Linked DNA regions of Homo sapiens. The protein of the gene in region 2 purifies or fractionates together with the protein of the main gene of each other region. This does not show direct contact. Each region holds a gene or a part of one and is shown on either strand. Other genes may lie near its edges. The genes, in order: ARVCF and CYSTM1.

Region 1 (3,815 bases), on a different chromosome or scaffold from region 2:
GCAACTTCCGCCTCCTGGGTTCAAGTGATTCTCCTGCCTCAGCCTCCCGAGTAGCTGGGACTACAGGCGCGTGCCACCATGCCTAGCTAATTTTTGTATTTTTAGTAGAGACGGGGTTTCACCATGTTGACCAGGATGGTCTTGATCTCTTGACCTCGTGATCTGCCTGCCTCAGCCTCCCAAAGTGCTGGGATTACAAGCATGAGCCACCGCGCCTGGCCTACCCTTTTGAAATAAATAGTATATCAAAGGTAAAAATTTAAGGCTGGGTGCAGTGGCTCACACCTGTAATCCCAGCACTTTGGGAGGCCAAGGCAAGTGGATTGCTGGGGCCCAGAAGTTCGAGACCAACCTGGGCAACATGGCACAACCCTGTCTGTACAAAAAATACAAAAATTAGCCAGGCATGGCCGGGAGCGGTGGCTCACACCTGTAATCCCAGCACTTTGGGAGGCCGAGGCGGGAGGATCACCTGAGGTCAGGAGTTCGACACCAGCCTGGACATGGTGAAATCCCATCTCTATTAAAAAAAAAAATTTAAAAATTAGCTGGTGATGGTGGCAGGCACCTGTAATCCCAGCTACTCGGGAGGTTGAGGCAGGAGAATTGCTTGAACGTGGGAGGTGAAGGTTGCAGTGAGCCAAGAATGCGCCACTGCACCCCAGTCTGGGTGACAGAGCGAGACTCCGTCTCAAAACAAACAAACAAAAAGGAAACAGTTCAGATGCAGCTGTAAAAACAAAGTTAAATCCTTGCCGTCCATTTACATCAGAATAAATACTAGTTTGTGCTATGGGCTGAACGTGTCCCCCAAAGTTCACGTGTTGGAAACTTAATTCCCAACGCAACAGTGTTGAAGGTAGGACCTCTAAGAGGTGTTTAGGTCACAAGGGCTCTGCTACATGAATGGATTAATTCCGTTACAGTGGGAGTGGATTTGTTATCTCGGGAGCAGGTTACTGATAAAAGGATGGGTTCCGCCTCCTTCAGCGCTCTCTCACGTGTGCTCCTGCCCTTCTGCCACCTCCTGGGGGATGTAGCGACAAAGAAGGCCCTCGCCAGATGTGGCCCCTCAATCCTGGACTTCCCCATCTCCAAAATTGTTAGAAATAAGTCTTTGTTTTTCAGGAATTAGCCAGTCTCAGGTATTCTGATACAGCAGCCCAAAATGGACTAAGACAGACAGATTAAATGCTGTGTACAAAACTAAAGTAAAAATACCTTCTAGAAGAAAAGACAGGTGCATCTTTATCTGGCTGCATGCTAGGGAGAGTTGACTACACAGAGAGACGGAATATCTAAAAATGGGGAAAAATCCAACACACTTCACCACAAAATATGAAACATTTTTGACATCAAAATGATCATAAACAAAAACTAAAAGGGTGAGAAAAATGTGCAGTAGGCAGAAAGAGGAGTGAAGAATTAATATCTTTAATATACAAAGACTCATACAATGGCTGAGAAACACATCAAAACCCAAGAGAAGGCCTGTCATAGGGGCCAGGCGGCCGCAGGAGACGAAGCCGCAACCCCCTGCAGGCACACGGCGGCTGATGGAGGAGGCCAGGCTGGTGCTGGTCTCTGAGAGGACACCACTGCTGGCCAGCTATGGGAAACGGCAGGGCATCTGTGTCCCCGCCAGCCCTTCTCACTCAGGCCTGGTCTCAGCACGCACCACCCCATCACACCCTCCCAGCTCCCCCTCCTAAGGGAGCCATGCTACTCATCACCATCTTGTAACCCCACAGTTGGCCACTGGTTCCTCTGTGTGTTGTGGATCTCCTCAACCAGGCTGGGAGCTCCTCAGGGGCAGGGCTGGGCCTGATGTGCCTGTGATGCCCAGGACCCAGCATGAGGCTGGGTGAGTGGGTGCTGAGTGTGGTGACACATGGGTGTTTACATCAGCCCCTGTCCCAGCTGAGCCCTGAGGCTCCCTCCCCAGCTGCCTCCCGCTGTGGACAGGACCACACCCCAGGGCCCAGCAGAGCAGGCAGCCGCAAGCCAGAGCCCAGGTTGCCCAAGCCAGAGCAGAGATGGCACAAATGCCATCACCCATCGCACCAGTGCCCAGGGCAGACATGAAAAACCAATCACCACAGCAGACAGGAATAAGCAATCACCACATTCCAGATGGGCAGGATAGGAGATGGGGAAAGGCAGAGAAAGAGGCACAGAGAGGGCCACAGAGAAACATAGAGAAGACCAAGAACTGGAGGGGGGAGGGAAAAGAAGGGACAAGAAAGGAGCAAGCAACAGGAGGGAGAGTGAGCAAGTGTGCCTGGGCAGCCTCGGACCTGCCCAGCCAACCACCCTCCTGCGGACCCTGTTACCAGGGCTGTCGTTTGGTGTCTGGCTGACCTGGCCTCCCTGAAGTGTGGTGACCTACGAGGAGTTAAGGGCAGTGGGACAGCCCCTCCTGCCACCCTGAGATGCCCTGTCACCTGTGCCACAAGCAAGCCAAGTACCCTGCCTGAGCTTCTTTGTCCCAACCCAGAAGACCCTGCATGGCCAAATGGCCTGAGCAGTGACATTCTCGGCCAGACGCTGGTCCTCCCACACAGCCAGGCGGCAGCAGACCCAGCTCCCACTAGGCTGGCCCGGCCGGCAGCTTTCCATGCCCAAGGACTTGGGAACAGGCAAGGAGTCAGTCATCCTGTCCCTCCCATCTGCCCTAGATCCCTCAGCCTAGGTCACTCAGGCATCCGGAGGCCATGGCCTTCTCCCTACCACTTAGGCACAGCACTGGCTGGGCCATGCCTCCACAATGGGCACTAATTGTCACTGAGAAACCACAGGGCTGTCAGCCATGCCTCCCACAGAGACTGCTTTTTGGGGGGACAGGCAGATGGCCAGGGTGGGGACTGGAGGAACAAGAATGGCCAGGAGCCATTCTCTTAAGCCATCACCCACTCTGCTGAACAGCACCCATCGTGGCAAAACTCTGGCAGCGTGGATGTGAGCAGGGTATGCCTTACCATCCTTCAGAGGGTCCTGGGGGACATGGACCACTCAGCCTCCAACCCTGCCATGCTTCCCAGGCGCTATGCCTCAGTCCCACTGGAGCTAGCAGCCATGATAAGCAGAGGAACCCCAAACACAGATAACACCTGAGGCCACGGGCCAGTACACATGGCCTACGGCTGTGATCAGAGTACATTCAGACTATTCAGTTATGGGCTGTCTGCAGCCATTTTCATCCTACAATGGCAGAGAACTGCAGCTGTGACAGAGACCATAAGGCCTGCAAAATTGAATTACTTACTATCAGACCTTTTCAAACAAAGTTTTGTGTGCCTGGCCTCCAGGACTATCCTCTGTCCCTGTGGCTCCAGTCTCTGGGGGGCAAGCGAATGGCCTGGCCCAGCAGGCTGTGCCAATACTGGATGCCACTGCGGCTGGCATCCTAGCTCAGGCAGGTGAAGAGCAGACCCAGTGAATGTCCAAACCAACACTGACCAGCAACCTCGTCAGCCAGCCCCAAACAGGCTTGTCCCTAAAGCCAGACATCAAACCAGTGGCTGCTGCCCATATTCAGGCCAGTAACAAACCCAAGCTGGTGGCAGGAGGCCCTCACATCCACCCTGTCCAGCCCAGGGGCTGTGCCTACCCAGGGTGAGAAGGACCAGGAGCACACAGTGTCCAGGGCCAGTCCATCCCTGTCACCCCCACCCGCCAGGCCCACCAGAACACTCTGCTGTCCTATGTGGGAGAGGATGTCCCCAAGCTAAACCCAGGCCACTCACCTGTCTTGAGGGAAGATCAGCATGTCCCGACACCCACCCTGCAGGCTCTGGCTCCTGCAGGGAAACCAG
Region 2 (3,815 bases):
TAGCCATCCCCTACTTCATTCAATATCTCTTGTTTGCCAGAGTTTTACCAGGCCCTGAGCTATTCTCATATAGTCAATGAATGAATAAGTATTAGAACGTATCTTTTGTATCAACATTTTGGCTGTGGCTTCACAATAGCCCCTCTATGGAGTACAAAATGATACACAGCTCAGATATGGGACCTTTCGCTGAACAAGGGCATCAAAGTGCACATGGAAGGCAAAAACTAACAATGGATCATCTACCTCTGAAGGCCCTGGCCCAGAGTGATGAAGAGGTTCAGAGACTGTCTTATTTTCCTTTCTCACAAAAAATATCTGATACAAAAACCACACACTGCTTTTATAACTGAGTTCATATGAAGCTAAAAATCTACAAACTATTTAGTAACATAGTTTGCTAATGCCATTCAGATAATTGCTTTAAGCCGCTATCCCCAACATTAAGATAACACAAAGATGTAAGTATTCTCAACTTGTCCTGATAGATTAGGAACAGCAAATTCTGAAAAGTCATACCATACCTACATTAATTATCCATAGTTCAGAATTATTTGAAAATGTGACTACAGTCAATCTTGTCTCCCTCCAATACTAAACTTGGTAGGTACATTTTAGCATTCTTCCAGACTTAGAGACTTTCTGAGGGAATTCAGAGAAGTTCCCTTCAACAGAGGATAACATATCATCTGCTAAAACCTTTCTCCATAAAGCTTTCTGTAAAGAACCTCTAGTTGGATCCAGGGCTTGGTGCTCTGTAAGATATAACATTTATAAACATTCCTGGGAAAAAAGACATTACTACCTGAAAATATCAACAACTAAAATGACCTATCCTTAGCCACCAGGTATTGGTGTCCCATTCCTCCCTAATGTTTAGAGCAGACAGCCTTTCTTTTTATAGCGGGTCTATCCTTTTTTCTTATAAACTCTTCAATAAAGACATATTTTTAAGTAAAACCCCAAATAAATACATAAAAACACCCTATCCTTTGAACGAGCAATTCTACCTTTAGGAATTTATCTTACAGATATATACTAGTGCCAGCCGGTATGCCAAAAAAAAAAAACCCAACTTTATACACATGCATATATATTAAATATAATGTTCATCAATATGAGAATGGTTAAATAAACCATGGTATTTCCAATCCATGGAACTGCTGCTATATGACGCTTCAGAAGAATAAGTTAGAACTACCTGTGCTGATATGAAAAAGCACCAACATGGTGGGAAAAAAACAAATTGCAACACAGTGCATTCTATTACCCCATTTGGGTTTAAAAATAAACTTCTATTTCTAAACCTGAATAGATCACACAGTTACACTAATGAATACAATTATTGATTAAACTGTACATTATACATACTTTTTTATACATATGTTATATTTAACAATGAAAGTTAAAACCCTTGCTAATCATCTTTAGGTAAAGTAGCCACATGGCTTTTACAAGAAAATAATCAATTTTTTAACTCATTAAGCAGGAAAGCCATGCTCCTAGATGCTTCCAACAATCCATCTAACCACATGGGAAGACAATTTGGTCCAGTTGCTACCTGGGAAAACCTAGCTTCAGGGCAGGATCCACAGCTGCAAATAGTCCTGTGGGTTCCAGGCTAACCTCACCCAAGGGCTCCTTCTCCAGCCTTCATTCATCATGTATGGTCCTCTGCAAAAGCTAGAGGACTGCCTGGATGCAGTATTCCCCTCTGCATTCAGCTTATGGAAGGGTCCCCACAGGTAAGCCTCAGCCCCTTGTCTAATGGATCCTGGCATTGTCAGCAAACCCTGATTATAATACCTTCCCCATACTGCTGGGACCCCCATATCGGGGAGGAGCACATCCAGCCTCACCCAACCACTCAGTTCAGGGACTCTGGTCAGTACCCCACCAACACTGCTATCTGAAAGCCAGTAGAGAAATGAAGGTTGGCTTCTCCTCAGAAAAATAGGGTAGGGATCTCTGAATTACATCTAGTCACTGGGACATATAGGACAGCATTATAATTGGAACTTCAAATAGTCAACCCTCAAAGTGAGAATGGAGAGAAAATGGGGCCCAGCAAGAGAGAGGCTCAAAAGAGAGGGCAGTATTGAACAGAAGGGAAAGGAAAAGGGAAGAAAGCTGTGAACACAGAAAGTGAGTTGGGGAATTGAAAGGAGCGGTTAGGGCATGGAGAGAGAGAAAAGGGAAGAACTCTGCCCCCTGCCAAGTTGAGAGGACACACTAGAAAGGGACAGGTCCATCCCTCCCAACAAGCCTGATAAGGCCACTTCCCAGGCCAGGTCCCCTGCCAGCCCAGCCCCTGAAAGACAGGCTCTGCCTGCCTCCTCCCAGAGCATTAGATTAGGCTTTGTGGGAAAGTTGAAATCTTGATGATTTAGAAAGAGGCCCCTACAGCTTAACGTGCTGGCAATTTAACTAAGCGCTCCTGGTTCCTGATGAATACCAAGCCAGCCTGGCTTTGCTCCATCATGAAAGCACGCTCTCCTGACCCTCTGAGGGAGCAGCAGCTCAGTCAGCACTGCGGGGTGGCTCTTAATGGACAACAGTGAATTTCACATCAAACCAGGAAGTACCACTCATGCCTATCATGTGCTGCACCCTAAGAGACCATACAACCCAGGGCAGCTCACCCTCCCCCTTTCTTCTGTTTTCATAGGATTCTTAAAGGAATAGGCTTTACGGACAATGAAGATTGGGGGAAAAAAATTCTAGATGATAACTTCAGTTTCTATCATTAGCAACATCCACAAACAGTTCTCTATATGTGAAAGGAACTCAAAGTAGTTTGGGTTATTGATGAGTTAAAAAAAAAAAAAGCATCCCTCCTGCCCCCCAAGAAAGATCTGAGTTTCCCAGGAGAATCTGAGTTTTCTAAGAGCACGCTGGCACAGAAAGAACAATGTAACACAGCATCAATGAAGCCACACCCCTGGCAGAGGGCCTAGAATTTAATATAGTATACAGCCTCACCACCACTCAGGCCTCTTTTTGGCAAACTTCAGATCAAAACAGAAGTGGTTTCACATTGCATTTACCTCTTGTTACCTCCTAGATTCTTCATTCTGTGGCCTTCCTAGTATCATAGAACCACACAAGTTTTAGGAAAAGATAGGATTGAAGGGGCCCTCTCTGAAGGCCTGCCTACTCCAAACCATCCTACCACCCATCTACTGCTGCCTGAAAAACTCACTATTAGTGAGTCATATCTTTGGGTAAAGGCTGTATTGCCCCAGGTGGGATATGTGGAACTTGGGGAACATGGACAAACAACTTCAATAATTTATACCTTCTATTTGTGACAGGTGATGTAGTAGTTATCAGTTTAAGGCAATGATATCGTTTCCCTTTTAAACAAATTTTAGGGTTTTAAAAAATGGGTCAACTTTAAGAAGAATGTTAAACAACAGTACAGATGACATAAAGATAAGACAAAAATCATGCAGGGGAACACAAATGAAGTGTGAAAAACACTAGGGTTTACTTTCAAGACCCTCCCTTTAAATACAACTACCCGGCCGAAGGTGGTGTCACACGCCTGTGATCCCAGCACTTTGGGAAGCTGAGGCAGGAGGATCCCTTGAGGCTAGGACTTTAAGAATGGCCTAGTCAACATAGCAAGACCTAGTCAACATAGCAAAAAATACAGACGGGGGTCCTGCTATCTTGCAGTGGCAGTGGCCCCCGTGGCTCTTGCAGGTGCAGTGGCTCATGCAGCAGGATTGCCTGAGCTCAGGAGTTTGAGACCAGCCTGGGCAACATAGTGAGACCCCCATCTCTATGAAATATAAATAAAAAATTAACCA

The links.
Region 1: the proteins of CYSTM1 (region 2) and ARVCF purify together in Homo sapiens (affinity purification with mass spectrometry; one large-scale study listed by BioGRID and IntAct). This does not show direct contact.

The regions. Positions count from the first base shown.
Region 1 is NC_000022.11:20,006,709-20,010,523, forward strand, and holds part of ARVCF (splicing regulator ARVCF), read right to left. Parts: intron 3,801-3,815; 5' UTR 3,747-3,800; intron 1-3,746. UniProt on the Homo sapiens protein: Contributes to the regulation of alternative splicing of pre-mRNAs.
Region 2 is NC_000005.10:140,181,643-140,185,457, reverse strand, and holds part of CYSTM1 (cysteine-rich and transmembrane domain-containing protein 1), read right to left. Parts: intron 1-3,815.